Linked DNA regions of Homo sapiens. The protein of the gene in region 2 interacts with the protein of the main gene of each other region in a pairwise test. Each region holds a gene or a part of one and is shown on either strand. Other genes may lie near its edges. The genes, in order: GPR161, UPK1B, VSIG1 and TMEM91.

Region 1 (8,239 bases), on a different chromosome or scaffold from region 2:
AAATGGGGGTTTCCATCCCACAGTGGCAAGAAACTAAATTCTGCTGGCAGCCTGAACAAGCTTGGAAGCAGAGTCCCCGCAAAAGCCTCCATATAAGAGCTCAGATTAGCCAGCACCTTCATTTTGGCATTCACATGAGCAGAAAACCCAACTGAGCCTGCCTGGACTTCTCTCTAAACTGTGAGATTAAAAAAAAATGAGTGTTTTGCCAGGTGTGGTGGGTCACACCTGTAATCCCAGTGACTCGAGAAGCTAAGGTAAGGGGATTGCTTGAGGCCAGGAGTTCAAGACCAGCCCAGACAACATAATAGAGTGTTTTAAGCTGCTAAATTTGTGGTAATCATTATGCAGTGACAGAAAACTAATAAAAGTTCATATGCCACCAACTTGATATTCATCCTAGTTTTTCTTCAGTTTTTGGAGGTTTTTTCTTTTTTGAGTTAACTTTTCTCAAATTTGTAAAATATGTACTTAGTTTCAAAGCCATACAGCAAGGAACCTTCCTAGAAACCTTGCTTTCTTTTTCATTCCTTCTGTTTGTTCCTTTCCCTTATTGGAAACCTTCTTTTTATTGTTTTTGGTTTGTTTTTCCACTTTTAAGTATAAGCAAATACCTATATATTTATTTTCTTTCCTTTTCTCACATAAAAGATAACATAGGCTGGGCGTGGTGGCTCACACCTGTAATCCCAGCACTTTGGGAGGCCAAGGAGGGTGGATCATTTGAAGTCAGGAGTTCAAGACCAGCCTGGCCAACATGGTGAAACCCCGTCTCTACTAAAAATAAAAAATTAGCCTGGTGGTAGTGGGGCGCGCCTGTAATCCCAGCGACTCGGGTGACTGAGGCAGGGGAATCGCTTGAGTCTGGGAGACAGAGGTTGCAGTGATCTGAGATCGCGTCACTGTACTCCAGTCTGGGCAACAAAGTGAGACCATGTCTCAAAAAAAAAAAAAAGATAATGTATAGCAAATATTCCTGCACCTTGCTTTTTTCCACTTAACAATACGTCTTTGAGGCCACTACATGTTAGTGTATAGAGATTTTCTTCATTCATTTGTAGCACTGAATCCTAACTTATTCCTCTAATCCCCTACTGACAGACATTTGGGCATTTTTAATCTTCTGTAATTACAAATGTATCCCAAATATATAATGTTGCTTTTTATTGGCAACAGAAGATAAATGTGTACTTGAGGATTTTTTTAATAGATCAAAAGATAAATGTACTTGAGGATACTTTTTTCCCCCGATACAAAATATGTGGAATTTTTTCCAACATCAATCAATTCTCTGACACCAATTGGGTATCCAACAATTCAATTCAATTCCGACACTAACTGCCTGAGATAGTTCAGACTCCACAGATTAAGGGCTCAGTCCCATACACTGTCCCCACTTCAGGCACCACATGAATGTCCAGGGCCTCCAGTACTTCTGACCGACTTGGCTTCAGATCAGGAGTTCCCATGGCTAATAATTTCCTATAACAGCTCACAGAGCTCAAGAAAGCACTTTACTTACTTTGATTACTGGTTTATGACAAAGGATGCAATTCAAGAGAAGCCAGATGGAAGAGATGTGTAGGACAAGGCAGTGGTACGATCTCAGCTCACTGCAACCTCCACCTCCCCGGTTCAAGCAATTCTTGTGCCTCAGCCTCCCATGTAGCTAGGACTACAAGTATGTGCCACCATGCTCGGCTAATATTTGTATTTTTAGTAGAGACACGGTTTTGCCATGTTGGCCAGGCTGGTCTTGAACTCCTGACCTCAAGTGATCCACCCGCCTTGGCCTCCCAAAGTGCTTGGGTTACAGGAGTGAGCCACCGCATCCAGCCCAATAATGCTCATTTCAATATATCAGCCCTAGTGGATGACATCATGAAGTGGTCAGACACTTGAAGTTATAGACAGGATCACTGCAAGTATGACACAGATATATAAATGTAGACCAAGTCACCTAACTTGTACTAGTAAATCTGATACCATGAGTGGCATTGTTAATAGTGAGGTGATTTCCAAAATACTGAACAACTCTTGGTGAGGTTTGAGTAAATCAAGGTGCAATCTTCCTTCAATTCACATAGTACTTGCATTCCTAGACAAATTGCTGTACAACAAAACCATGCAAAAAAACCCCTCATGGATATATGTAAAATAGTTTGGTTTCAGACTTAGAAAAGTATAGACAGTTTTTACTGTCATGTGTGAAAGGAACTGTTCTTTTTGTGTAGGACTATTTCATGTACTGCAAGATGTCTGGTATCCTGGGCCGCACCCAATAAATGCCTGGGGTGTCCTCTAATCATTGTGACAAACCCAAAATGCCTTTCAAAATGTCGTATTAAGAATCACTGAGTGAGATGCTTTCTGTTCCAAGTAACAGAAATAAACCCATACTGATTCAATAAAAATATATGTATATTGATTGGCTCTTGTTTCTGATCAGTCCAGAGGCACATCAGTTTCAGGGAAGTTTCCATCTGAGGTCAAATGGTTTTACCATTCTATCAGTGGAGGCATACTGTAAACAAATAAATAGAAAAATTGATGCATATTTTATAAATTTGGACACATTTTATGTAGAAAAACAACAGAGCTGTGAAAGAGTACATAGATTAGAGAATTTCTTTTAGATTGGTCAGGGGCTGAGTGCAGTGGCTCACATCTGTAATTCCAGCACTTTGGGAGGCCAAGGTGAGAGGATAGCTTGAGCCCAGGAGTTAAAGACAAGCCTGGGCAACATAGCAAGATCCCATCAGGGAAGACTTCTCTAAGGAAGTGACATTTAAGGTGAGATGTGAAGGGCAGGAAGGGCTTGGCCTGTAAAGAGTGGAGGAAATAACATTCCATGTGGAACAAATAGCATATTTCACAGTTTTGCTTTCACCAGTTTTATGTGGACTGCTAGACTGAAATGATATTTTACATAAAATATGTTTTATATATAAATTATTCAACACACATGTGAGGTTCAGTTGGACAAGGCCTCTCATTATCTTACTTTATAAGTCTTTGTGGATGTCTCTAAAACAGAATGGTTTATTAAACTAATTTGGGAAAGGAGAATTAGTGTGTATCTTTCTCTTTTTCTAAAAAAATATAAATACATTCTTGCACAAAATCAGTCACGTTTTTCACAATTGTCACCTATACAATGATATACGGTGAAATAATTACTTTAATAATAATTTGTCTGTTTTCTCTGCATCTGATTGAATTCTGCTCATAGCTCAATATTAGCTCCAGAAGGGAAAAAAATCTTAAGAGAGCAATTGAAAATGCATTTGTTGGCAGCAATTTCCATCCCTGAATGCACAGTAAGTTCTGAGCTTATGAGCTCAGAAAAAAGAAAAATCTTTGTGATAAATAATGCATTTGATAATGAGCAGCAGGAGAAAAAAAGTGTTTTCTGTTGAAGAGTTCAAAATGAAATAGAGTAAGTATGGGAAAAGGTTGCTCAGTATGAAGGACATCTTTCGCATCATGGATGGGTATGGAGCCACAACAGCCGTAACTGTTTATTTTTTATTCTCATTCTCACCATGCCAGTCTGTGGCATATATTTTCAGACCTTTCGTGAATACCAATTTTCAAAAGGGTTTAGTTCTCAGATTCTATGTCACTGGATGATTTACTTACATGACCTCATTTAACCTTTTCAACTCTACAGATAGGAAAGTATGAGTATCCCCATTTTATATATGAATAAGCTGAGAGGAAGGTTAACTCACTCCCTCAGGCTCATAGAGCTTAGCCGACATCTGAGTCAGTGTAAATTAAATAAATATCAGGGATTTCAAAATAAGTGTCTAAAATACTATTAAGAACAGAAAGCTTTAAGCTCCTTCAAGTGTCTGGCTTGCCGCGTGACCTAGACTCTTAAGTGGAGCGTCAGCTTCCAGTTTTTGACCAAATAAAGCATTTATCCCATAGGAATATTAAGGCACCCATTTACTTTTTTCTCCCCATTATCCCATTTGTCCCCAGAGCAATGTGGGTGTTTGGCAGGTGCCAGACAGTAAATTACTGTTCTAAATTGTGCCTCAGTGGCCCAATAATATTAAGGAAGCATCTCCCACAGTGTCAATCTGTAGACAAGGGAATAATTAATGTATTTATCAAAGCAGATGGATTTCAGAGGAATGTGAATCCTGCTCTAAGCACAGCATCAGGGTTTGTTTTTTTTTTTCTGGAGTTTAGTGAACTGGGCTTTGTAACTTCTTACCTGATTATTTTGCTGCCCTGTTTGTCCTTCCTTCTTTCCCTTTTTAGCAGTTCTACTCTGTGCTTCAACTTTTCATCCCCTTATTAAGACTGCTGCATAGAAAACGTAGGAGTCTGGAGACAGGCAGGCAAAGTGGGGAGTGAGGAAGGGAAAACAAACATTCTGAGAAGGAACTGTTCCGTCCCCCGAGCTGACAGCGCCCGCTCTTTGTTTTGTGATGACTGCTCCCTGGCCTTTTGGTTCCGAGGGAGTGCAGGGCAGCAGTGTGAAGACCTGTTTACGTCCACTCCCCACTCCCCGGGGCTGGCTTCGGGACGAATTCACTGTGGTATTAACAGAGCCCGGGACAGAGCCTGGCAGAAGGCAGATGGATGCTCGTGCCCGTCGGCTGGATGAATGAAAGGTGAGCAGCAAAGGCGATACCAGGATCGTCCACGGCGGGACTGGAGGAGGAGAATGGGACTGTGCGGAGCCTGCGGGAAGAATCTGAAAGTGTCTGTGTGATGGAGAGAGACATGGAAAAGGCGACGTCCCAGCGGCTGGAACTGGGGCGGAGGAACGGGAACAGGGAAGGCCTGAGTTAGGCACCACAAAGGTTTTCAGGAGAAAAGTGGGGCGAGCCGAGAGGGTAAGGGCGAGACAAAGAGCAGCAGCCGAGGCTGTTCGTGGGAAGAAATGGGAAAGAAGCAGCCGGGAGGGCGGGCGGACGGACGCGAAGGAAGGGGCGCGGGTGGGGAGGGGCGCCGGGAGCTGGGCGGGGCGGGGCAGTGCGGGGCGCGGGGAGGCGGCTCGGGGCTCCGGGGGCCGGAGGGGCCCGGCCGGGCGTGGGGGGGGCGGGGCGGGGCGCGGGCGCCGCAAAGTTACTTGGCCTGCGCCCGCCCGGGTCCGCGTGCTGGTGGCTGGCCCGCGGGAGGAGCGAAGCGGGGCTCGGTGGGCTGAAACCCGAAACCTCCAGTCCCGGAGCGCGGCGGGGAGGAAGGAAGCGGCGGCGGCGGTGGCCGAGGCGGGGAGGCGGCTGGGCCGGGGCCTGAGCTGCCGCGGCGGCCGCTCCTCGGTGAGCACCCGGCGTGGGGCGCGGGCGCGGGCCCGGGCGGAGAGGGCGGTCCGGATGGAGCCAGGCTAAACTCATTGTGCGAGGCTGAGGGCTCAGGGCGCGGGCCGGGAAGGGTCCCCGCCCCCACGGCGCTCCCTTTCTCCCCGCGCCCCTCTCGGAGGTCAGGGCTGTCCTCCGCCCGCACTGCGCCTTGCTTTGGAGAGCTGGAGCTCTTTGTGGGAAGATGTTGGGGGCGCGCCCCTCCCCTGCGGCCTGGGGCTTCTGAGAGGCCCACCCCATTCTGCTGGGTGCAGCCCGCCCCGTTTCTCCGGCGCCGCCCGAAGCCCCTAAACAGTCCGCTGGATGGGAGGGCGTAGGTGCGTGCCCGGGACTCTGCCGATGCGGGCCGCGCCCCCTGGGGCCAAGAGACTCCACGTCCCGCTCAGGGCAAAGGGTGTGGGGAGAAGCGGTCACGCCCCTCGGCTGGAATCCGTGAGGACCAGGTGAGCAGCCTTCTCCCAGCCGGGACTCAGGGCGCTGTCTCCCCGAGCCTGGGCGGGCGGCGGGTGGCGCGCCCAGAAGTGGCCCGGCGCCGCCGGATGGGCGGCTCTGCCCCTCAGATCTGCGGGAGGGAGATTCGGCTGGTTCTTGGAAAGGGGAGAACTCGACCAGCCCTCGGCGCCTTCTGGGCCAAGCTTAACCCCCGTGCAACCTTTGGACAAAGGCATATGGGATGAGAACGTCTGTTGGGTAAGTGGGGTGTGTCCTGTGCTTCCCGGAGGTCTGCTCACCAGTAACCACATAGCTGCGCATTGGCATCGCTTTATATCACATCTTGGAGGCTATTTTTGCTTGTTATTGTACTTTCATCCCTTTTGCAAAGTGCTTTCATAGAGCAGGTCATTTGATCCACCTCCCGGTGAAGCCGTGAGGAGGTGTGTGGTTTTGGAGGGAAAGAACCTCAGTTCCTTGATTGTCCAATGGAGACACCGATAACCTCCGGTGAGCCTGTCTCAGCGTCCTAGGGGCTGGGGGAGGATGGCCATCCTTGTGGCTCCTCCGTGGAGCCAGGCGTGGATTCAGCCTGGCTTCTTCTCCCCTAGTGACCTGGACCTCCAGATGAGTTCTGGAGAGCTACTGCTTCGGGGAATAGGCGGTTTTCCCTTATAATCTATTTTACTGCAGCCACTGGGAGCAAGTGAAGAGAGGCATTTTTCAGGCCCTCAGGGCAGAAAGAGGAGGTGGGAGGGACCTCAGGTCATAGAGACAGAGGCTCTTCAACTGTAACTGGAATGCATGGCACCCATTTCTGTTACTTCTTTCAGAGCACCTCTCTTCCGGTCCTCCTCCACACCCGTCTTATTTTATACTTGTCAGGTGCTTACAAGCACTTTCATGTACACTTTTTCATTCACACAACAACCTTGTGAAGCTCTACTAGCCCATTTGATAGGTGAGGAAACTGAGGCTCAGGAGAGATGAAGCATTCTTGCCCAGCTAGGTAAGCAGCCCAGATTGAACTCAGATCTTTTGCCTTGGTAGTGCTTTTCACGTGGTTTCCTGATGGCACACAGGTGAGTTCTTTAACTCAGGGCTTCTCCCTGCCCTGTAGCTCCACTGCCATAACATCAAGAATAGAGACCCCTCATTAAGAGGCCCGCTTGACATTTTGGAACTAATCCAAGGCCGCAACGATATCCGAACCGTTCTCTTTGTGTTGCAGCCTGGTGCACTGTGCGTCCTCTGAGAGGTGAAGGAGCACTGTGTGGTCAGAGGGCTGCGAGCTCTCTGTTTGGGTTCCGAGGAAGACAGAATGGGCTGAACTGGAACTGACCTAAATGTCAGCAAGAGGAGGTACAGTTCTGTGGTGTAAACTCCACTGCCAGCAGGGACCAGTCAGGAAGCCTGAGTGCAGGAGGCGGGTGGACAGGAGGGCTGGGTGGGAGCTGTGTGCTGCTAAGCCTGTCTCCAGTAAGGGGGCAGCTGCAGGTGCGGTGGGGCTCCAGCACATGGTTGCCTGATCTTAGTTTTGGGGGAAACTGTAAATTTTTACGGAAAACAAGCTTCATATATTTTTAAAGATAGCAACTGATTCAAAACATTTTTTTTAATGTGCGTGCAGTTTAACCAAATTATGTGTGCAGGCTGCTTGCGTCTTCTGTGTGAGACCTTGGGAAGCACTGACTGTCATTCTGAGATGCAGTAAAGCATGACAGCAGGGGAGAAATGGTGTCTTCTTGCTGTTTTTCTATAAGAACAAAAAACATCAACAGAACTAGAGATAGCTATCAGTGCTACCTGGAGTTTGGAGGAGGGATTGACTTTATGACTCCATACTTCATTCATTCACCCAGTACTCGTCTATGACTCTGTTTCTACACCAAGAGAAAAGGCTTACAACTAGTTTTAATCTATTTCCTTGCACATTTTATGTGCTCAGCAGGGGAGAGGATAGCATTCATGGCAAATATGTTCAGGGAGTGCTGGAGCATAAAGGAAGGAATTTGCAGTTGGCCAGGGGTAAAGCATGAGGAGGTATATTTCAATTTTATTTTAGTTTGTGTTTGTTTTATACTCAAGCAATGGGTGAGAGAACACTGTGTTAAGAGCACTATCTGAAGTCAGACAGCCTACCTCCCAGCCCTGCCCCTTATAAACTTGTGACCTTAGGTAAATAATGTAAAGCATTCATGGAATATAGTAATTTTTCAAAACTAAGAGCTGTAAATATTTTAAAACACAGTAACATATAGGAAAATAAATTAAATTCCCCTCCACCTCTTCTCTACTCCTTCTCCCCACCTTTGAGATAACCACTGTAAATGTCTGTCTTTTTAGGTCTTTTTCAGTGTGCTCAATATGGTCACCAAGCCTGGAAACATAGGTGAATATATAGTTTATTGCTATTATATAAAACATGATAAAAAAGTATTACCTACATTTCTCACTTTAGGACCAACCTGAATATATTGAATATA
Region 2 (7,601 bases):
AAGCATTTGCTATGTAGCAAGACTTTATAAACTGTAGAGTGTTTAGCAAATGATCTGGCGCCAGGCAGACCTGTGTTTCAGTCTCAGCTTCTGCACTTTCTAGCAATGTGGCCTTGGGCAAATTAATCTCTCCAAGCTTCCCTTTTTTTTTGTTTTTTTTTTTTTTGGAGATGGAGTTTTGCTCTGTTGCCCAGTGCAGTGGCCCAATCATGGCTCACCACAACCTCCACCTCCCAGGTTCAAGCGATTCTCCTGACTCAGCCTCCCAAGTAGCTGGGATTACAGGCACCCGCCACCATGCTCGGCTAATTTTTGTATTTTTAGTAGAGACGGGGTTTTGCCATGTTGGCCAGGCTGGTCTCGAACTCCTCACCTCAGGTGATCTGCCCACCTCAGCCTCCCAAAGTGCTGGGATTACAGGCGTGAACCACCATGCCCGGCCCCTTTTCTTTATACAAACAATGGCAAGACAACAGCTTCTCCCCCTAGATCCTTCAGAAGCAACATAGCCCTGATTTTAGCCTGGTGAGACTCATTTTAGACCTCTGCCCTCCAGAACTGTAAGATACATTTCTGTTATTTTAAGCCACGAAGTTCGTGGTAATTTGTTTCAGCAGCAATAGGAAATGCAGACCTGAAAAACCCATCTCTCAGGTCTGTTGAGAAGATGAATATCAAATGCCTAACATAGTGCCCAGAGCATTGTAAGTGCCCAATAAATGGCAGTTTTCATCACTATTTCCTTATCTTGGAAGACAGGAGTAGCTAAATTATCATGTGCCATTGATACCAAAGGCCTAAGGGAGAAGAAGAGAATGCATAGTGAAAAAGGAGAACATTTTAGTGGCCAGAAAATTCAGAATATCTTGCCCACTGACATATCACCACCTTCCAATAACCAACCCACAGCTGGGCTGCCTCCCTGGCATTTCTGTCATGTCCTTGCCTAGGTTTCTTCAATTTATGCTTTTCTTTTTGCTCAGAGCAAGTTTCTACCTTCCTTCTTTTCTCCCACTTTTATCTGCGTTTTCCACCCTAATTGTGACTCCTGCAATTCTCCCATAGAATATTCATTTGCTCTTTCCCCTTTGTCTAAACTCTGTGTGGCAGAGTCATCTCTGGAAAAGTCTGTACGTCACGGGGCATAATTGGGTCACCCAGGCCACCTCCCTTGATCGGGGCCCCTGCAGTTCCTTTCTGGACCAATAAAGCCCCTCAGCGGTGCCTCTGTCTTTCTCCACAGCCCTCCTTGTCCCCTTGATGTGCACGGTCATTTTTCCTTTGAACCCACGCTGTAATTGCACTTTAAACTCCTTGAGGCCAGGCGCAGTGGCTCACGCCTGTAATCCCAGCACTTTAGGAGGCCAAGGCAGGAAGATCACAAGGTCAGGAGTTCGAGACCAGCCTGGCCAATATGGTGGAACCCCATCTCTACTAAAAATACAAAAAAAAAAAAAAAAGCCAGGTGTGGCGGTGGGCACCTGTAGTCCCAGCTACTAGGGAGGCTGAGGCAGGACAATAGCTTGAACCTGAGAGGCGGAGGTTGCAGTGAGCCAAGATCGTGCCACTGCACTGCAGCCTGGGCAACAGAGCAAGACTCTGTCTCAAAAAATAATAATAATAATAAAAATAAACTTCTTGAAAGAAGAAATTGTCTTATTTCACACAGTACATAATCAGTACGAGTTGATATCGGTGCTGAATTTGGCCTCTACTGATTTCTGCCCTTTCCTCTCTATGCTTCTGTTATCTGAACTCCTACGTTTCACAGTCTATTTACTTTTGTCTCTAGTTTAGATACTAACCCAACTGGTCAGGAATAATGTCTGTACATACCAGTAATGAACTTTACAATGTGACTCAACCAGCTACATGAGTAAGTTTCCCCCTTGGGGGAGTTTGTGCAGTCTAACACGCAACAATAACTGGAAAGAATGAATGAAATTTCTAAGCAGAAAGAAATGAATGGCATTTCTAAGCAGAAACTACACAGAGACGCAATGGCCCAGATTCTTCCATTTCTCCAGCAAACATGAATTGAGTACCCACTGTGTGCCAAATTCTGAGCTAAAAGTGCTCATAAATTTTAACTGAACTTGTCACAGCTACCCAGGTAAACAGATAAAGGAAAACATTTAGAGATGTCTAAACTTACTTGGAAGGTTGTTAATACTTACAGTGTAACAATGAGGTTAAAATTTAGCAAGGCTTGAGACAAATAGAAGGTTTGCCTCCCACTGCTACCCTACAAAACTAGGACTTTGACCAAATTGACTGGTTTGCTATCTTGTGGGCACCTTGCTCTTCTGTCTCTACTCCCTAACTTTTCCTTTCTCTTTACCTGGAATGTCACCCACCCCCACCTCACTCCCACACATATCCACCTCTACTCTACATATCAAACCATACACATCCTGCAAGACTTACGTCTTCCCGCCTCAGGACTCTCACAATATTTCATCTCACTACATGTAGTATAATTGTGTGGGAATGCATCTTAGTTTCCCTACTAACGCAAAAAATCCTAGAATACAATAATCTCCCTTACATATCTTTGTATGCCTCAGAATGCATATTGAACCATTTAATACATTTTTTATTTACAGCAGGAATGCATGAATTGATTAATTAAATGTTGAGAGCTGTAGATGGCTTTTCTCAAGGTGCTTCAAGTGCAGAAGCCCAAGTGATTGACCCACACACTTACCTTTGTGTTCCTTCCAGAAAATCCTCAGGGAGGTGAGAGACCCATGTTCAGCTGTGTATGGCACCAAAGTCTATACATAGTTTCTGGGAGTCACTGTGGGCTGTGGGGAAGCACGTGGACTCTGGAGTCACACACACCAAGGTCTCTAGCCTAGCTCTGCCACTTACTGGTTGTGTGACCCCAGGGAACTTAATTTACAAATTTAAGCTTTAGTTTCCTCATCTGCAAAATGGAGCCTCCTCGCCTTTCTTCTTTTGCTACCGAACTGGGTTATGAGAATTAGATGCGTGCATGCAAAGCACCTGGTAGAGTGGCACACACCTGGCAGAAGGAAGTAAATTCTAGTCCCCGTTTTCACTTACCCTCATATACAACGGGGCACTTTTTTATTTGCCAACTATTTCTTTGAAGATAATAAAAGAGTCAGAAAATGATAGTTTTTAAAAGCACCCTGCAGTCCACATGGGAACCAACCACTACCTCTGGCCATGAGTTTACCCTTTGGGTTTCCATTTGTCATGGCCAAGGGCAGTGAGGGCTATGCCAGGGACCCTCAGTGTGTTTGGCCCTACCCAATCACCATCTCAGGTCTACCCCTTGTGCATTCCACCTTGCGGGGCTCAGTCCACCACTCAGAAGGATGCATTCTGCACACTCCTTGCCTGAAAGAACTCCTGAAAGGCACTGACCAGGCTCTGGAAGGCTATATTCTTTTCATTCTTTATAAAAGTTATGTGATTACCAAGCTCAATAATCAAATGTCCTTCATCGCTAAAAGATTATATGGCTTTGGTTTGGATGCTTTGGGAACAAGGAGGCAATACGCAATGGCTTGGTTTACTCATGTTACAGAAACTGTAGCAGTTATTTGGTAATGCTTTCAACAGTGCCTTCAGCTTGTGGGAAATCCCGAAGATGGCCAAAGACAACTCAACTGTTCGTTGCTTCCAGGGCCTGCTGATTTTTGGAAATGTGATTATTGGTGTAAGTAATGATTATTTTCCAGGAAATTCTGCACTTCCTGTAATCATAATTCTAGATGAATCAAAAGTAAGAGTTTAAAGGAAAATAATGCTGTGATTACTGGCTTCCTATATTTTTGCTTCATTTTAAGAAATGTGTTAGTAAATATGCTAGCTAGAATTTAACTGTATGTCAAAAGATCATGGTTGAAAAAGTAGATATTTTCCTCCCAACTTTAAAATATAAGTATCTAAAAGGAGTCATGTCAACCATAGTCAGTGTCTAAACACTCTGACTACGAACACACTTCACTATTTCTTTTCTATGTCACCTTGGTTTGATTTCCATGGGACTCTGCTGTTAAGGTTTTTTGGGACAGATGCTTGCATCTTGTTCTTCTCATACAGAGGCCAGTACCAGGGTGTAAGAATAATACAGAGGCCATACTGTGTGGGTCTGGTGGCATAGAAGAACATTTGTTTTGGAGTCCAGAGCTCTTGGCCCAGCTCTCCCTCTGACTCCCCATATGACTCTGGCCATCACCTTTCAAGGCTGAGATTCCTCATCTATAAAATGTGGGTGTTGGCAAAGATAAGCAGCAAGGTTCCTCTCAGCTGTCATTGATAAATATGACCAGGACCAGCTCAAATATTACAACCCAGAAATGTGGGTCATGACATGGGGGCAGGGGGAGATCATTCTCATACCAGAAAGCATTGTTTGAGTGATTCATGCCCCAAGGACATTGTGGATGGTCTGAAATTGTGTGGGTCTGTTACTAAATAGACAGAATAACATGTGAAGGGATGTATGCAACCAGTTAGTAGGATGGAAGTAGTTGTTTGATTTCCTGGCAATGGGGAGTTTAGATTAGTTGCATAAAGCCTGTGCAGGAAAGGGAGCCAGTCACTCTTACCTTCCCCACCCTCCACCCCCTTTCCCAAAGCTGCACTCCTGATGGAGCCCACCTTTCATTTGCCCCCAGTGTTGCGGCATTGCCCTGACTGCGGAGTGCATCTTCTTTGTATCTGACCAACACAGCCTCTACCCACTGCTTGAAGCCACCGACAACGATGACATCTATGGGGCTGCCTGGATCGGCATATTTGTGGGCATCTGCCTCTTCTGCCTGTCTGTTCTAGGCATTGTAGGCATCATGAAGTCCAGCAGGAAAATTCTTCTGGCGGTAAGACCTCAAAATTCTCTGGAGTTGTCTCCCTGAGCCAATTGTAATGGATTCTTTCTTCTTCACTGAGCAATGCTTTGGCTTTCAGTGGGGGAGCAGGAAGTACCAGATAAGGGGTGAGGAGGGGAAGACTTTCCCTGCAGTGAAATGGTCCACATGGAGGCAAAGATGCCCTCCACTATTGCAAGCCCAGAAGGCTCCAGTACAGAGAAGCCAAAGGGGAGACACCTGGGGGTGACCTAATGAGTATTTTCCATATTGTGCCTCTACAGCTGGTGTCTGCATACACCCAGTAGGTACAGCTAGGAGCTATATAGGCCAAAGGAGAGACACAGTGAGAATTCATTCATTAGATTTTTTTCTCTTGGCAATAACTTGTTTAAAACATTTTGATATTAATTAGGCATTAATATATTAGGATATAAAATATAAAATATGCATACATTTTTAAAAGAAAGTATAAGCTTTCAAAGATTTTTGAGCTCAAGGTTGATGATTCTGTATCATAGCCTATACTCCCCACATTATCATCCAATCTGCTTTTCAGGGACCCCAGAAAACCTTGATAAGCACCACTGTAGAGTGAGCCTTCAGCTCACACCTGCCTGTGGGGGCTTTAACTCTGTACATCAAGGAGAGGCTTCTGCCCCAAACCATAGACAGCAAGACCATGCCCTGCCTTTGCAGATGAAAGCAAATTTGCAGGCAGCAGAGCTGAGAAACCTGTTTCAGACGTGGACCCCTACTGTCTGCCCTAATACTTAGGGCAGCAGTTTCACACTATTATGGAACACGCCTCCAATCCCCCACCCCTGAAATAACCCTTTTATTCAAATGCTGCAGGACCTCAGTTCCCCCTTTATAGAATGAGTCCAGCAATGTAAGGTGCTTGTTAGTTTACTCTTCCTTTTAACTAACCACTGTCCTGGTTCCAATGGATTACAGAACATTTACATTCTCTGGTTCCTTAGTGTGCGTAAGTTCCAGGGCAAAAGTACCCACTTTTGGTGGGTGGGGAAAGGAATACAGGAAAAAGGGAGAGGAGACACAGGTGTTCCTAAAGACAAATTCACTTGCATCCCAGCCTCACTTTGGGCCAGCCATGTGCATGCCTGACAACCAGGAGAACTGAGCTGGGGAGGCAAAGGGGCTAAAGGAGGAAACACCTCACTGCATACCTCCTTTCTGGAGCGTCTTTACCAGGAGCCAGCAAAGCTCTTGGCAAGGAGCAAGGCAGCAGCTAACACAGGAAAAAAATGTTCTGGGGCCTCTGAAGGTGCTCCTGCTGTTGACTGTAGCCAGAGCTTTATTCTGGGCTGAGTAGTGAGGGCAACAGAGGGTCCTGCTCGGAGAGCCTCCCATACCCAAAGAGGAGGACAGTTTTCCCTGCCTACCCTGCTGACACTGACCACAGTGCCCCTTCTCCCAAGAGTGTGTGCAAGCCTGGGGAAGGCAAAGCTGGAACTCTTGCAAACAGTCCCCATCCCAGATTCAGAGGTCATTTGCTGTTCGGATATTTTCCAGCCAGAAATAGCATCACTGTCATGTGGAGGTATCATGTGCACACGCACCCATGTGCCCATGCTCACGCACACACACCACCACTACCACACACAGCAAATGCCATTTCACTCAACTGAACCAATGTACTTTGAGTGTGGGTGCGTGTGAAAGAACACCCACAAATGCTGTGCACTTGAAGCCTGCCTCTCCTCTGATGAGACTGGATGCTTGTTAGGAAGGACCCTAGATGTTCAACATTATCCAGTTCATCTTTTTCTGAACTCCGTGATTCTAAATTTTCAGCAAATTGTAAAGAAAATTTCTCCAAAATTCCAAAATTAAAGGGGATTTATGAGGCCCTATACTGTATGTGATACACTAAGACTCTCTTGCCACTCACTGAGCATGCACATGCATGTAAATGCACACATGTAAATGAGCATGTAAATGCTCACATGTGTGTGTGCACACATACACACCAGTTCATTCTCTTGTACTTGTTTTTCCCAGTTAAAATAGAAACTCAGGAAACTGGACTGAGGAAGGTCTGTATTCAATGGCTATTTGTTCTCTGGAGAAAAGGAGAGAATTGAGCTGACTAGCACCAAGCCTCAATCCAAGCCACTGGTCAATGAGGGTTTGTTGAATAACTACATGAGTGATTACATGATTATATGATAAATTTGCTGAAAAAACATAATTATTTGGGCAAGTCGCTCTTTGACGGGTAAATGTAATTCTTTTATCTCATTTATTTCCCTTCCAGTATTTCATTCTGATGTTTATAGTATATGCCTTTGAAGTGGCATCTTGTATCACAGCAGCAACACAACAAGACTTTGTGAGTACAACCTCAAAAAGCAAAATAATATGAATTATCATTATTATAACAACCAACATGTATTAACCCCTTACTATGTGCCCAGGCAATCCAATATGCACAGTAATAATACATCTATCATTTTACTTAATCCTCATAAATCTATGAAATAGGCATTATCACTCTGGTCATTTGAGAAAGGAAAAAAAATGAGACAGAAAGGTAAAATGACTTGTCTAAAGTGACATAGTTGGCAACTGAAAGAGCAAGAATTCTGAACCCAGATGGCCTGACTCCCAGGGCCCAAGTTTGTAATCCCCTGTGGGTTTCACCACTCTGCCATGGCCATGGGCCTTCCAATGGGAGGATCTCTGTTCTACCTCAGCTAAGACGTGCTCTCAATTCTACATCTTTCTTTCTCT
Region 3 (7,934 bases), on a different chromosome or scaffold from region 2:
GCGTGGTGGTGCATGCCTGTAATCCCAGCTACTCAGGAGGCTGAGGCAGTAGAATCACTTGAACCCGGAAGGCGGAAGTTGCGGTGGGCCGAGATCGTGCCATTGCACTCCAGCCTGGGCAACAAGACTTAACTTCGTCTCAAAAGAATATATATATGTGTATATATATATATATATATATATATATATATATATATATATGTGTGTGTATATATATATATATATGTGTATATATATATATGTGTATATATATATGTGTATATATATATATGTGTGTATATATATATATGTGTATATATATATGTGTATATATATATGTATATATATATGTGTATATATATGTATATATATATGTATATATATATATATATAGAGAGAGAGAGAGAGAGAGAGAGAGAATGTCTTGTATTTTGGTGGTGATTGTTCATTCATTTAATGCCTACAAGGTGGCAAACATTTTGCTTATAGAAGGATTATTATCCTCCTAATGTACCACAGCAAAATATCCCCCAAATATTCATATTTAATCTGATAGATTTGAAGTGATTTAATTTCCAGCAACTTCATATATAATAGATTCATTTTGACTTAGGAAATAATATAATCAAATGATCACTCACTTTTTTGGATTTGAGTGCAAACTCAAAGTTCAAATATATTACTCCTTTAAAATGCATAGCATATACCTCCAGAAAATGAAACCCACATTAACATATCTTTCTAAGAGGTGACTAATACATATTTCAAATACCTAAAATGATATGCATAAATTTTTTGCAGAAGTTTGATTAAAACTCGTTTTCCTGAATTAGAATTTAACCTAAGAATTCCTAAGAAGTCATTGAAAATATTTTGATTTAAGCAAAATCTGACCTGTTTAGTTATATCAAAATCAATTTTAAATATGTATGTGAAAATGATGTCTGGATGTTTGGAATTTGGGAAAGTAATTCATTCTTTCAACAAACATTTACTATGCATCCACTATGTGTTAGGCACCACGCTTAACACCAAAAAGTGACATTCTCTCCAAAACAAGTCCAGGAAGAACATCAAATTGCACATTGATGGAAACACTATCAGTTGTCCAGATCAACTGATGAACACTGCTAATGACAGGTGTAGATTACTAAAGTGATCCTTTCTCTGACTTCAATACATATGTAAGCACAGCAAACGACAATAGAGCATACCACAATTTGCTGTACTGACACTACTGCTTTGGGCCAACTAGATAATATGTGTGTAGATATATAGTGTACACTATATACCAACAAAATCAGTTATATAGTAACTTAGGAAACACACTCTGAAGTATTTATTGGTCTTGTTCTAAAAGTCACAATAAAATAAAATCCTGACATGATGCTAAACAATTTTTTTAAACAATAAAAAAGTATACAAGGAATAAACCCAATTTTTAAAATGTAATATATACACCTGCAAATAAAAGAATAATAATTCACCCAAATCTGAGTGGTAAAATTGCAGATGATTTTTATTTTATTTTAAATTTCCATATTTCCAACCTTTCTACAATGACCATGCATTACATTTATAATCAGTAAAAATTACTTGTATGTTAGGTACAGTTAAAAAAAAAAAAAACTGTTCTTAACAACCGTTCCAAACCCTGTGCCTAGTATGGGCCAGGGCAAGGCTTCACATAGGGAAACAGGTATGATCTTAGAGGGCTGATGCAGAAGGCCCAGGGGTCGACCCAACTGGCTAATGACTGGAAACCCTTTAAGAAGAGACAAAACTTCCATATCTAAAGTTACATTTAAATGAATATGCCTGGGGAGAAGGGAAAATAGGAACATGTGTTTCCAGCTCTAGGGCCTAGTTAGGTCACTGGACAAATGGAGTATTGCCTTCTGGTGATGTTTAACTCCATAAAACATCTATGCTTAAACATTTAGTAATGAACATTTAAAGAACTATTTCTAAACATGAGATCACTTTGAAAAGTAACACTTTTTTCTAATTATAAAAATAGCATAATGTTCTTCGTAGAAAACCCAGGAAGTATGAAAAGCTGGGAAATAAAATTAAAATCATCTATAATCCCATCACCCAGAGGCAACCACCATGAGCACTTCGGTATATAACCTTCTAGTAATTTATTCTAGGCATATGTGTGCATCCTGCTTTTTCACTTAATATTTTATCGTGGGTATTTTCTTATGTCATTAATACGCCTAGTAAACCTCATTCTAACCACTGCCTAATATTACTAATGGCTTGAAAATCCTGTTTTTGGATAAACAATATTATTGTATTTACTATGGACCTAACTTATAAGAACAGATGCAAAATGTATCTGATATTTGAAAACTACCCAAGGGATTTTTGGAATTAATGATCTCTCCTGGATCTAACTAACATCAGTATTTTGATTCCAAAATTGATTTTCTTCTGTTCAGATACCTAAAATCACCCATGTTGTGCACCATAAATCACTCACATATTTTGCAAAATACAGTCTTAGGATTGGAAAACCACAACTCCTTAAGAAATATTAGACAGTAAAGTACTCAGTAAATTTCTGTTCTTCCCATATGTAAGCCAGGGCAGGCCCTCCAACCCAGGCTCTGCCTGCTAGAGCAAGTCAATCACTGAGCTTAAAGGAAACACTAAAGTAAGTAAAACAGAGACAAAATTATCCCTAGCACAAAGTTTGGTTTCTGAGTAAATTCATTTTTTTCACTTTTCAAAGTAAGTAAAGTAATAAACTATATTTTTTTCTGAGAAAATTTTCATTCAGAAGCTCCATAAAACAATAATATTATGGGCTTACACCCCTAATATATCAGCATGGCATATGTTTGCTAAGCAAGAGTTCTGAAAATTAACTCATCATACTAATCACAATTCATTTGAAGTACAGGAGATGAAAATTCTATGTAAAAATGTGGAATTTTTATTTAAAAGGAAACTCTGTTTCCAATTATATTTGGTGGTTTGGAGATCCTTTCCTTACCTGCAAGGCAGCTTAGGATCAGAAAGACCTTCCAAAATGCGAACACCATTGTGTGGAGGTTAGTTGAGAGCAGCAGGTGCCAGTAGCTTGCCTGGACTAGGCTGAGTCTCAAATTGGCTTCTTCGATCACACCGAGGTTTGCCTGGCTTATCTGCTGGGCATCGCCAAGCAAACATGCCTCTTTGGGCTTACTTATTGCGTATAGACTTTTTTCAGTACAGATTTGTGTTTCTTTGAAACACTTTTCATGGGGCGTGTTTCCTTGATATATTTGCTACTGTGTTAATAATAAACCCACGCATTTAAATTATTCAAGCTCCTTGTACACAGATTCTCTAAGTCTCATTGTTTAAAATCAATCTTACTAAAACGTTGTACTTGGGCTGGGGGATATGGTTGGAAGAGAGCCTATGCAAATAAAAGCTGACAAGGCTAATTAATTTCAAATATTTCCATGAGTCTTACAGAATTGATTCACTAACCTCCTTTTACAAATTAAGTTAGTAAATTGGTACTATATCGTTTCCTGGGGAGATGGGGCTCACGGGAAGGGCACAGGGGTTATGAAGCTAAAAAGCATTCATTTCTGTGTGAACAAACTCTGGATATGTTACTCTTTTTTGAAACACTGGCAGTTGTCACTACCCTCCACCAAAACTAGCAGTAAAATGATTTACATGCTTTTGTCTGTCGGGTTAGAAACCTTATAGCACGTATTTGCTAACGTAATTTTGCAAAATCAAGTTAGTGAATACATGCTTAAAGACTTTCTTTGGAGAAGTCTGATTTTTTGGAGAATTAAGATACTCAGTAAATGCTATAGGGTTTCCTTAGAAATGGAGGTTCACCAGGAGGGCATGGGAGGCTCCACAGGTAAGGAACTTTCATGGGAACATGAACTTCTAATAGTGTTCCTATTATGCTTAAGTTACCCGGAGAAACCTAAGGACTTTCTCTGGCTCTTCCCATGTGATTTCTAAGTCCTATCATTTCCATCTCCACAGCGACTTTCAGATGTGTTCTTTCTCCAATCTGCTGCTTCCATCTTGGTCCAGGTACTCAGCTTCCCACTTTGGCCTATCATAGCAGCTTCCTAAGTGGTCTCCCTGACTTATTCCACCTTCATCCTGTGTGCCAGCCGCAGGCCAATGTTCCAGCCCTAGTGAAATATTTCCAGTAACACCATAAATGGACTCTTTCATCAAATCCAAAGTCCTTAATATGGATTCCCATTCTTCCAATATCTGATCCTCACCTCATCTGAACTTTAGCCACATTAACTCATGCCCCTGAAAAAGTATGTCAAGATTTATTGCCTCAAAGTGTTCAGTCACATGAAATGTGTACAAATTTCAAGTGATATGTTTTATGTTCCTGTCTTTAATTTACAGGAAATGTTTGACCCCATCTTACTTTAGCCATTCCAATCTCCCACTGCTTCTTAGAAAGCCATTTTGCTTCCATCATGCCTGATTCCTCCTTGCAGCCTATCCTGTCCATGCTCATGTCTGATGCCAAACGTTGGCTCCAGGTGATTTCCATCACTAGAGTTTTCTTCTTCCTCCTCTTACTAGCCAAGTATATTCTTAGCATAGATCAGTCATACTGTCCTATGTGAGAATTTCAATGAACCGACATACCACCCTAGCATAAATTTCCATTTTACTTAAAGCCAATATCCTACAGCTGACCATTGATTATTCTCCAGTAGTTTCGCATTTATTAACTGGTCTACCTTAAATCTAGTCACTGTGAATCCCTCCAGGGTAGGGACCATGTCTTATACAGGCAGTTCCCAACTTTAAAATGAGCGTGTCCCAAGATGTAATGGTAAACTCGTTGACTGCACGCAAGAACTCCTGCAGAAGCAATGTTATAATATGAGTCTCACTGTCAGGCATGTAGCACATAATCTAGCACTGGCTTGAATTCTGCGTACTGGGCCGTATAAGGCAGTGGAGGGTGAGGAGGAACAGCAGGTGACAGAGAAAGAACGTTCCTTTCATTTCCCAAGATATGACTTGTGCACAAATCAACATTTTCCCCCAAATAACTATTGCATGTCTCTGACATCCACCTTCTCTTCTGCCTCCCACCTTCACGGCCCCCTGGCTCCTGGGTCCCTAGTTTGCCCTAAGGGAGAGTCTCATTCCCCAGAATATCTCATGCTCCAAAATTACTTTTTCCTTTTCACCTCTATTCCTCCCAGAAACCCTCCCTTTCCCCTGTATAAGCAGACAGCAGCTCCATGTTAGGAAGGGAAAAAAAAACGTTTCATTGAACATTCTCCAACCTGTTTGTGCTATTAAAAATACAGTGCTTACTTTCCTCACATAAATCTCTGACCAGGAGAATTAGGCAATGCAATAAAGAGAAATAGTTTGAGGGAGAAGATTTTGCAAAGGAGGACAACTTGTAGGGTGGGTCTCTGGAGATCCATACCACCTTTTCTCAGGCTTGGTTCTGCCTTGACTTCTAAGTCCACCAAGTCTCTAAAAGACCCATAGTTTTCACAATGCCCCCCACCCTGGAAGTAATACCGGTAGTTCCAGTGGTGAGGACGTGGGATGGGGAGCGAAATTTATAAGTCTGGCATTTGTAAGCCAGAAGCTTCCTGTGTTTCCTTCCATGCCCCATAAGTGATTATAGTAGTGTGACCATTGATCATTAAAACTAGGACACTTTTGAAAGTGAAAGGGGCACTATTAGCAATTACCTGGGAAAGACAGCATAAACAGTAACAGTGCCAGACAAACCTGGGTGTCTGGTTACCTACCCACAGGGGATTACTAGGCACAAAGTAGGTGCTAAGTAAGAGCTTGCTAATTAATTCAGTATGTCTGAGTTGGTTGGCCCTAAGATGAGTGCAGCAGAGGGTATGATTTAAGGATATTGCCCAAACCCATCTGCACCAAAATCTGTTGTGCAAACACAAAACACTCTGGAATATTTAAGTAAAATATCTATACTGCTGCTATGTAAGACCTAACCAGGACAGGAAGAATTCTGTTATAACAAACTCTAAAAGAGAATTTAAACTCTCTGCTTGGACCTGGATTTTGATGTTATTAACTATTGCTTAAAAAGTGGGTCATTAACTAGGACACGAAATATTAAATATCCTTTGCAGTTTTATAGAGCTTTATAATTTTTAAACTAATTTTCCATTTTATCTTTGTAGCTTTCCAATACAACAAATAAATCAGGTATACCTACATTTTCTATATAAGAAAACTGAGGCTCAAAAGTGCTGTGCTTTTCCCAAGGTCACCATAGCACGCATTAGAAGCTGTTCCTATCACACCACACAATGGCACGGTGTGATTGTAATGTAACAAATATGCTACTGCCCCCAGTATTCTTCCTTGGGAACTTTCAGAAATATGTGATATCTGATTTATCCCTCATTTTTAACTTAAAAATTACAAAAGTAATACATTTTGATAGTAAATGGTTTTCAAAGGACAAACAAGGATACAGAGGAAAAAAAGTCCCATTCATTCACTCACACATGTAATCCCTTTCCCAGGCTCACATGGAACAGGAGTTTAGCATTTTTCTCAGACCTTTTTCTATGCATGTACACATGCACAAACACACACACACACACACACACACACACACACGAGGTTTTTTAAAACATAAAGATGATAATACTGTACATTTTGTTCTATAATTTGCTTTTCTCCCTTAAAAAAGGTATTTTTATTCTCTCTTTCTGTCACTGGGTCCAACTGCATCTATAGATCAACCTTGTCCATGTTAAGGCTGCATGGTATTTCATGATATGAATGTACCTCAATTTATTTAATCATTCTCTTATTGGTAAATTCTTAGATGGTTTCCAGTTTTTCAATATTATTGACAATGGTTCAATGAACATGTAGCTTTCCAATACAACAAATAAGTCAGGTATACCTACATTTTCTATATAAGAAAACTGAGGCTCAAAAGTGCTGTGCTTTTCCCAAGGTCACCATAGCACGCATTAGAAGCTGTTCCTATCACACCACACAATGGCACGGTGTGATTGTAATGTAACAAATATGCTACTGCCCCCAGTATTCTTCCTTGGGAACTTTCAGAAATATGTGATATCTGATTTATCCCTCATTTTTAACTTAAAAATTACAAAAGTAATACATTTTGATAGTAAATGGTTTTCAAAGGACAAACAAGGATACAGAGGAAAAAAAGTCCCATTCATTCACTCACACATGTAATCCCTTTCCCAGGCTCACATGGAACAGGAGTTTAGCATTTTTCTCAGACCTTTTTCTGTGCATGTACACATGCACAAACACACACACACACACGAGGTTTTTTAAAACATAAAGATGATAATACTGTACATTTTGTTCTATAATTTGCTTTTCTCCCTTAAAAAAAGTATTTTTATTCTCTCTTTCTGTCACTAGGTCCAGCTGCATCTATAGATCAACCTTGTCCATGTTAAGGCTGCATGGTATTTCATGATATGAATGTACCTCAATTTATTTAATCATTCTCTTATTGGTAAATTCTTAGATGGTTTCCAGTTTTTCAATATTATTGACAATGGTGCAATGAACATCCTTTTGTCAAGATCTGCCCACTTGTGTGATTATTATTGTAGATTAGGTCCCTAGAAATGGAATTGCTTGATCAAAGGGTATGTAGTTTACATTTTTGGTAGACTGCAAAATTGTCCGCCAGAAGTTCTTTACAAACCATACCTCCATTAAGAGTGTATGAGAGTGCCTGCTTCTCCACAGCCTTGTTGGCAATGAAAATTATCAGTCTTTTATTTATTTATTTACTCTGTAAACCTCCTCTGTGGTCCTCAGCCTTTTATTTTTACTAGTATCATGGGTGAAAATTGGTATTGTGTTGTTGCTTTAATTTGTATTTCTGTAATGTGGTTGGGCCTCTTTGTAGAGGTTTACTGGCCTAACTGGTATTCCTTTCCCTG
Region 4 (7,950 bases), on a different chromosome or scaffold from region 2:
CGTCATGTAAGTGGAATCCTACAGTATTTGTCCTCTTATGACAGGATTATTTCACTTAGCATAGTGTCCTCAAGGGTCATCCAGGTCATAGCATGCAACAGGATTTTTTTCCTTCCTGACCCCCCTTTTTTTGACTTGGAGTCTTGCTCTGTCACTCAGACTATAGTGCAGTGGCTATCACAGCCACTCCTGGACTCAAGTGATCCTCCCACCTCAGCCTCCCAAGTAGCTAGGACTACAGGTGTGTGCCACCGTGCTCGGCTAATTTTTTTTTAAGTTTTGGAGAGAGAGGGTGGTCTCAGTGGCTCCCGCCTGTAATCACAGCACTTTGGGAGGCTGAGGCAGTAGGGGGCGGGGGTGGGGATCACTTGAGGGTAGGAGTTCGAGACCAGCCTGGGCAACAGGGTGAAAACCTGTGTCTACTAAAAATATAAAAATTAGCTGGGCATGGTTGTGCGTGCCTGTAATCCCAGCTACTCGGAGGCTGAGGTAGGAGAATCACTTGAACCTGGGAGGCAGAATTTGCAGTGAGCTGACATTGCGCCACTGCACTCCAGTCTGGGCAACAGAGTGAGACTTCCTTTAAAAAAAAAAAGTTTTGGGAGAGATGGGGGTCTTACTGTGTTGCCCAGGCTGGCCTGGAACTCCTGGGCTCAGGCAATCCTCCTGCTTCAGCCTCTGGGATTACAGGCATGGGATTACAGTGCTGGGATTACAGGCATGAGCCACTGTACCTGGCCAGCACTTTATTTTATTGTTATTTATTATTATTACTTTGTTTTTTCATAACATTGATGTTTTGAAGGTTATAGGCGACCTCCTTTGTAGAGTGTCCCTCATTTTGGCTTTGTCTCATGTTTCTTATTATTAGATTTAAGTTATGCATTTTGGCAGGAAAACCAAAGAAATGGTATGTGTCTCCCTCTTTGCTTCAGACCAGAGGCAACTAAGGTCAATTTGTCCTGTTAATGGTGATATTAACTTGTATCATCTGGTTAACGTGATGTTTGCCAATTTTCTCCATTAATTTTTTTTTGTTATAATAAGTAATCTAGGGGAAGCTACTTTGAGACTAAATAAATATCCTGTTCTTTATCAAATCAGATTTTCACCCAATAACTTAATAGTTTCAGTCTCTGTTGACAATCCTTGCTGGAATCTCGTGATCTTTTGTTTTTGTTTTTGTTTTTGTTTTTGAGACTGGGTTTCACTTTGTTGCCCAGGCTGGACTGCAGTGGCACAATCATGGCTCACTGCAACCTCCACCTCCTGGGCTAAACCAATCCTCCTATCTCAGTTTCCCGAGTAGCTTGGACCACAGACATGCATCACCACACCCAGCTGATTTTGTTTATTTTTTGTAGAGACAAAATTTCACTTTGTTGCCCTGGCTGGTCTTGAACTTTTGGGTTTAAGTAATCCTCCCACCTTGGCCTCCCAAAGTGCTGGGATTACAGGCTTGAGCCACCGTACCCAGCTGGAATCTCATGTTTAATATTCCAGACCTGTCACAAACACTAAGAGGTGTAGCCTCTTAGACTGTACAAGGCTAACGGCAGCCAGAGAGCTCTCACTGGAAGTGAATTAATCTCTAGGATGGCCTAGAGGGATGAGGGGACCCACAGAGCTCAATGATTTGGTGAAAAACTGAGGCTGGAGGCTGATGGGAATTTATGCCCCCATCCCACACATATGTAATAAAGACCCACTTTGTGCCAGGCACTGTTTTAGGCCGTGAGGCACAGTAGTGAAAAAACGAGATCAAATCTCAGCCCTTGTTGTGCCGACACTGATGTGGGAGGATTCAAACTACAAACAAGAAAAATACATGGTATGTTTAAGGCCGGGTGCAGTGGCTCACGCCTATAATCCCAGCACTTTGGGAGGCCAAGGCGGGCAGATCACTTGAGGTCAGGAGTTTGAGACCAGCCTGGGCAACATGGTGAAACTCCGTCTCTACTAAAAGTACAAAAATTAGCTGGGCATGGTGGCAGGTTCCTATAATCCCAGCTACTTGGGAGGCTGAGGTGGGAGAATGGCTTGAACCCAGGAGATGGAGGTTGCAGTGACCTGAGATCGTGCCACTGCACTCCAGCCTTGCTGACTGGGGTTTTGCTATGTCGCCCAGGCTGGTTTCGAACTCCTAGGCTCAAGCAGTCCTCCCTCCTCGGCCTCCCAAAGGGCTGGGATTACAGGCGTGGGCCACCGCACCTGGCCTACAGTATGCTTCATAGAAATATGAAAAGAATGAGAGCAAGGTTGAGATAGAAAGTAACAGGGCATCCCTCCTGAGTAAAACAATCCTGCCCCCTCACGCTCTCGTCTACCCTCCCGTGGGTCTCCCTGCTTCTGTCGTCTGCCAGAAACTGGCTGAGCCAAGTGCACTTGCAGACGCCATCTGTTCTCCCTGGGAGTGGGGCCGGTGCCAGCGCCAGCATCTGGACTCTTGGCAAGGAGCCCTGGAGCCCTGGAGCGAGGGAACTCCGGCCCCACAAAGGCCAGGGAATCCTCCAGTCTGGTGAGACGGAGGGCTTCTGGGAAGGGAGGCCTATACAAGGCTCCATGAAGGAGGTGGAAGCTTGCAAGACGATGATAGTCTTGTAATCAGTCCGATGGAGATGGATGTAAATAATAATATTAATAAACACCATCAAATGTGTTCAGAGTGCTTTCTTTGCCAGGCTTTGGATAAATGTTGGATATCTGTTCTTTTTATTTTTTATTTTTCTATTTCCTAGGCAGCACCTAAACCAAAATAGGTTCAGAGAGGCTCCCAATGTTGGACATTTGTTGTTGCAGCAACTCTAAGTACTCTACATATGTTATCACATAAGAGGCAAGGAGCATTATCCCCATTTTGTAGGTGAAGAAATAGGGGTTCAGAGAGGTGAAGGCATTGTCTAGAGGCCACACACTCAGTGACTTAAAGAGCCTGGAAAGGGGCCAGGAATGGTGGCTCACACCTGTAATCCCAGCACTTTGGGAGGCTGAGGCGGGTGGGTCACCTGAGGTCGGGAGTTCAAGACCAGCCTGACTCATATGGAGAAACCCCATCTCTACCAAAAATACAAAATTAGCCAGGTGTGATGGCGCATTCCTGTAATCCTAACTACTCGGGAGGCTGAGGCAGGAGAATCGCTTGAACCTGGGAGGCGGAGGTTGCGGTGAGCCGAGATCACGCCATTGCCCTCCAGCCTGGGCAACAAGAGTGAAACTCCATCTCAAACAAACAAACAAAGAGCCTGGAAAGGAAACCAGGTCTATGTGGGTCCAAATGCTGACTCATGAACATCACTGTACCACGTGACAATCAGAGCATCACCCCCTACTGGACCCCACTCCTCAGCCTTCTTTCCCTAGAAACTCCTAACCCACCTGCCTCTGCTTCCTCCTCACCCATTGGCTTAGCAAGGGCCACAGGAACACAGCCCGGGGTTACAATATGCTGGGCTTGGTACCAGCTGTTTACTGTGGCCAAGTGAGCATGCAAGTGAGCCCGTTTATTTTCTTTTCTTTTTTTTTTTTTTTTTTTTTTTTTGAGACGGAGTCTTGCTGTTTCCCAGGCTGGAGTGCAGTGGCGCGATCTCGGCTCACTGCAAGCTCCGCCTCCCGGGTCCACGCCATTCTCCTGCCTCAGCCTCCCAAGTAGCTGGGACTACAAGCGCCCGCCACCAAGCCCGGCTAATTTTTTGTATTTTTAGTAGAGACAGGGTTTCACCGTGTCAGCCAGGATGGTCTGGATCTCCTGACCTCGTGATCCGCCCGCCTCGGCCTCCCAAAGTGTTGGGATTACAGGCGTGAGCCACTGCGCCCGGCCCGTGAGCCCGTTTCTTTATCTGCAAAACAGGGATTAAAAACAAGCCAACACCCCTTCAGCACTCCTCCGCAAAAAAACACCCCAAAACAAAATAGGCCAGGCGCGGTGACTCACACCTGTAATCCCACCGCTTTGGGAGGCCGAGGCTGCAGTGAACCCAGGAGTCTGAGGCTGAAGCGAGCAATGATTGCGCCACTGCCTTCCAGCCTGGGCGATCAGAGCAAGACCCCGTCTTTTAAAAAATAATAATAAAAAAAAAATCTGCCGGGCGCGGTGGCTCACGCCTGTAATCCTAACACTTTGGGAGGCTGAGGCGGGCAGATCACCTGAGGTCAGGAGTTCAAGACCAACCTGACCAACACAGCGAAATCTCATCTACTAAAAATACAAAAATTAGCTGGGCGTGGTGGCTTGCCCCTGTAATCCCAGCTACTCGGGAGGCTGAGGCAGGAGAATCGCTTGAACCCGGGAAGCGGAGGTTGCGGTGAGCCGAGATCACTCCACTGCACTCTAGCCTGGGCGACAGAGCAAGACTCCGTCTCAAAAACAAAACAAAACAAACAAAAAAACCAAAGTAAAATAGCAGCGACAACAACAACAACAACAAGAAAAACCCGGAGCTGAGAGGAAGAATGAATGCGATGATGAATGTAAAGCGTTTAACACAGGGCTTGGGTACAGTCTGCCCTCAATGAACCAATGATGTACCCCTAGGCAATTTACCTAACCTCGGCTTGCCAGTTTCCTCCCGCGTGAAACAGGACAATAAACGATTATGCCTCTTAGGGTTGTGCTGAGGAATACATGTGTATGTAAGTTTATTTGCAAAGCACTTAGAACAGGGCGCACGGTCCTTGTTGCTGTTATTATTATTGGCTATTATTGCGCAAAGGGGAAGGGAGGCGGGGCCAAGCCAGGAAGGCCCTGGAGAATCCGGGGTGCCCCCTCCTCCGGCAGAGCTTGGGCCTGGGCTCACGAGGAAGGGGCTGCAGTTCTCCAAGGATTCCCGCCTGCTCCCAGACCCCCGGGAGTCGTAGGAACCCGTTCCTGGACGCTGACGTCGGCTTTCAGGGATCCCTCGCCGGACGCCGCGGAGGGACAGAGCCTGGGAAGCCGTCGCCCCGCCCCGTCCCCGCCCCCGCGCGCAGCGGGCCCGGGGCGCTGAGACCCGCGTAGAGCAAAGCGCAAGGTCCCAGCGCCCCTTGGATCCTCGGTGGCAGGGTCCGGGCAAGTGTCATTGCGAGGGTTCAGGAAGCCCCGGCCTGTGATCGTGAGCGGTGAGTGAGGGACGTAGGTGGGTGGGGGTCACAGTCCCTTCCCTGGGTCCTGGAGTTGGGGATGAGAGGGCAAAGCTTTGGCGAGGAAATCGGCTCAGTCAAGGTTTGGAATGAGCAGGCAGGAGGCTTGGGGACCTTCCAGGGGGATCGTAGGACGAGAAGAAGAATATTCTTTCTGGTTGTGTTGCGTGTGTACGTGTATGTGTGTGCTGGGGTTGAGGGTGTTTATGGGGGCGAGGTGTGCAAAGGATTCTGGAGAGCTGGTGCATGTGTGGGAGTTGTGTGGAGTCATAGGTGTGTGGGTGGAGTAGGGCAGGGGTGCCTGGGCCTGATGAGTGGGGCAGGCATGCCAGAGGTCATGAGAATAGGAGAGAGTGCCGGGGTGCATGTGTGCGTGTGTGCACAGGTGTCTGTGGTTTGTGATGCAGTGGGGAGTAGGGTTGTGCACGGAGTCAATTGGGATAAATGTGTAAGAAGGTTGGGGACCTGAAAGGGGTGTTTTCTGGGAGCTGATGTTTTGGGGCAAATATTCAAGGAGTCCTTTGGGAGATGAATGTGTGGAGGTGGAGGCTGGGCTTGCCTAGATGGGGCTGTGTGGCAGGGGACTTCGGGGGGCAGGTCTAGGGGACAGAGGATGGGGAATGTAGACTAGAGTGCAGTTCCAGGCAGCACTGGGGGTAGGGGATGGGTGTGTGTGTGACTGGGAGGGGTGCCTGGGCCTGGATAGGTGGTCACGCGGTATGAACCTGGGATGGATATTGGGGGTGTTTGTGGGGCAGGTAAGTGTGTAAGGCATGGTGCAACAGGTGCTGCAACTTATTGGGGTAAGTGTGATGGGTATGTGGCTTTTGCCTGAGAGAAATGCCCAGAATTTGGCTGGGTGCGGTGGCTCACGCCTGTAATCCCAGCACTTTGGGAGGCCAAGGCTGGTGGATCCCCTAAGGTCAGGAGTTCGGGACCAGCCTGGTTAACACAGTGAAACCCTATCTTTACTAAAAATACAAAAAAAAAAATTAGCCGGGCATGGTGGTGGGCGCCTGTAATCCCAGCTACTCGGGAGGCTGAGGCAGAATGGTTTGAACCCGGGAGGTGGAGGCTGCAGTGTGCTGAGATCATGCCACTGCACTCTAGCGGATCTGCAGTGGTGGATCTGCCTGGGCAACAGATGGAGACTTTGTCTCAAAAAAAAAAAAAAAAAAGAGAGAGAGAGAGAAATGCCCAAAATTGAATGTCCAGACCCCTGAGTTCTCTTCATAACCTGAGGCCAATCTTTTTTTCTCTCTGGGCCTCAGCTTCTGTATCTGTAAAATGGGTCTGAGGACCACTGCACTAACTAGTCTCTGCCTGAGTCTCTCTAAAGCAAGGGGTCAGAGGTTGAGTGAAGTGAGACTTTTACAACTTGTCTTTTTCTTCCCCCTACCCCTAGGAAACCCCTCCTGGAGTTTCCCCAAAGCCATGGACAGCCCTAGTCTTCGTGAGCTTCAACAGCCTCTGCTGGAGGGCACAGAATGTGAGACCCCTGCCCAGAAGCCTGGCAGGCATGAGCTGGGGTCCCCCTTAAGAGAGATAGCCTTTGCCGAGTCCCTGAGGGGTTTGCAGTTCCTGTCACCGCCTCTTCCCTCCGTGAGCGCTGGCCTGGGGGAACCAAGGCCCCCTGATGTTGAGGTAGGAAACAGCAGGCCTTAGTGGAAGGCACGGGAGGGGGCTGGGGTGAGCCCCACTAAGGCCAGCATCTGGCAGGTTGACAGCTGTGCCGATCTGCCTTAGGCCTGGAGTCTCACTTCCCAGCTGTGTGTGGGCTTCTGAGATTTCCAGTTACGGTTCTTCTTGTTTTATGTCTCTCATCTTTGTTGCCTGGCTTTTGGCTCTGTCTTCCCTCTGATCTCAGACTCCGCTGGTTGGTGTCTTCAGAGTGCATGCACCTCTGGCTTTTGTCCACCCTGCTGTCTCCCTCTTTGTGTGTGTGTGTGAGAGAGAGAGAGAGAGAGAGAGAGAGAGACAGGGTCTCGCTCTGTTGCCCAGGCTGGAGTGCAGTGGAGCGATCATAGTTTACTGCAACCTTGACCTCCCGGGCTTAAGCAATCCTCCCACCTCAGCCTCCTGAGTAGCTGGGACCACAGGCATGTGCCACCATGCCTGGCTAATTTTTTGGTGTTTTTTGTAGAGAAGAGGTTTTGTCATGTTGCCCAGGCTGGTCTCAAACTCCTGAGCTCAAGCAATCTGCCTGTCTTGGCCTCCCAAAGTGCTAGGATTAAAGGTGTGAGCCACCATGCCCAGCCTTCCTTTTTTTTTTTTTTTTTTTTTTTTAAGTTACTGTTGTCACTTTTTATAATTTCTCATTCCAGGCCAGGCACAGTGGCTCACACTGGTAATCCCAGCACTTTGAGAAGGCGAGGCAGGAGGACTGCCTCGCCCAGGAGTTCTAGGCTAGCCTGGGCAACTTAGTGAGACTCCATCTTTATTTTTATTTAATTTTTCATTTTGTCCTCCGAAAATTAGAAAGACCCCATCTTAAAAAAAAAAAAAAAAATTAGCCAGGTGTGATGGCGTGTTCCTGTAGTACCAGCTACTTGGGAGGCTGAGGTGGGAGGATCGCTTGAGCCCAGGCTGCAATGAGCTGTGATCATACCACCTTACTCCAGCCTGGACAACAGAGCAAGACAGACAGAAAGAAAGAAAAAGAGAGGGAGAGGGGGGAGAGAGAGAGAGAGAGAAAGAGAGAGGGAGGGAGGGAGGAAGGAAAGAAAGAAAAGAGAGAGAGAAAGAGAGAAAGAAGGAAGGAAGAAAGAAGGAATGAAGGAAACAAGGAAAGGAAGGAGGGAAGGAAGGAAGGAGAAAGCAGAAAGAAAGGAAGGC

What was found.
Region 1: the proteins of UPK1B (region 2) and GPR161 interact in binary tests that used the Homo sapiens proteins (3 or more experiments, as listed by UniProt).
Region 3: the proteins of UPK1B (region 2) and VSIG1 interact in binary tests that used the Homo sapiens proteins (3 or more experiments, as listed by UniProt).
Region 4: the proteins of UPK1B (region 2) and TMEM91 interact in binary tests that used the Homo sapiens proteins (3 or more experiments, as listed by UniProt).

What each region holds. Positions count from the first base shown.
Region 1 is NC_000001.11:168,133,782-168,142,020, reverse strand, and holds the start of GPR161 (G-protein coupled receptor 161), read left to right. Parts: upstream 1-5,090; 5' UTR 5,091-5,282; exon of another isoform or gene 5,283-5,624; coding exon of another isoform or gene 5,625-5,764; exon of another isoform or gene 5,765-6,011; intron 6,012-6,984; exon of another isoform or gene 6,985-7,099; coding exon of another isoform or gene 7,100-7,115; intron 7,116-8,099; exon of another isoform or gene 8,100-8,145; intron 8,146-8,239. UniProt on the Homo sapiens protein: Key negative regulator of Shh signaling, which promotes the processing of GLI3 into GLI3R during neural tube development.
Region 2 is NC_000003.12:119,183,120-119,190,720, forward strand, and holds part of UPK1B (uroplakin-1b), read left to right. Parts: intron 1-3,594; 5' UTR 3,595-3,622; coding exon 3,623-3,691; intron 3,692-4,655; coding exon 4,656-4,856; intron 4,857-7,125; coding exon 7,126-7,200; intron 7,201-7,601. UniProt on the Homo sapiens protein: Component of the asymmetric unit membrane (AUM); a highly specialized biomembrane elaborated by terminally differentiated urothelial cells.
Region 3 is NC_000023.11:108,040,229-108,048,162, reverse strand, and holds the start of VSIG1 (V-set and immunoglobulin domain-containing protein 1 isoform 2 precursor), read right to left. Parts: upstream 3,099-7,934; 5' UTR 3,033-3,098; coding exon 2,984-3,032; intron 1-2,983.
Region 4 is NC_000019.10:41,371,761-41,379,710, forward strand, and holds the start of TMEM91 (transmembrane protein 91), read left to right. Parts: upstream 1-4,772; 5' UTR 4,773-5,094; intron 5,095-5,503; exon of another isoform or gene 5,504-5,563; intron 5,564-6,520; 5' UTR 6,521-6,549; coding exon 6,550-6,759; intron 6,760-7,950.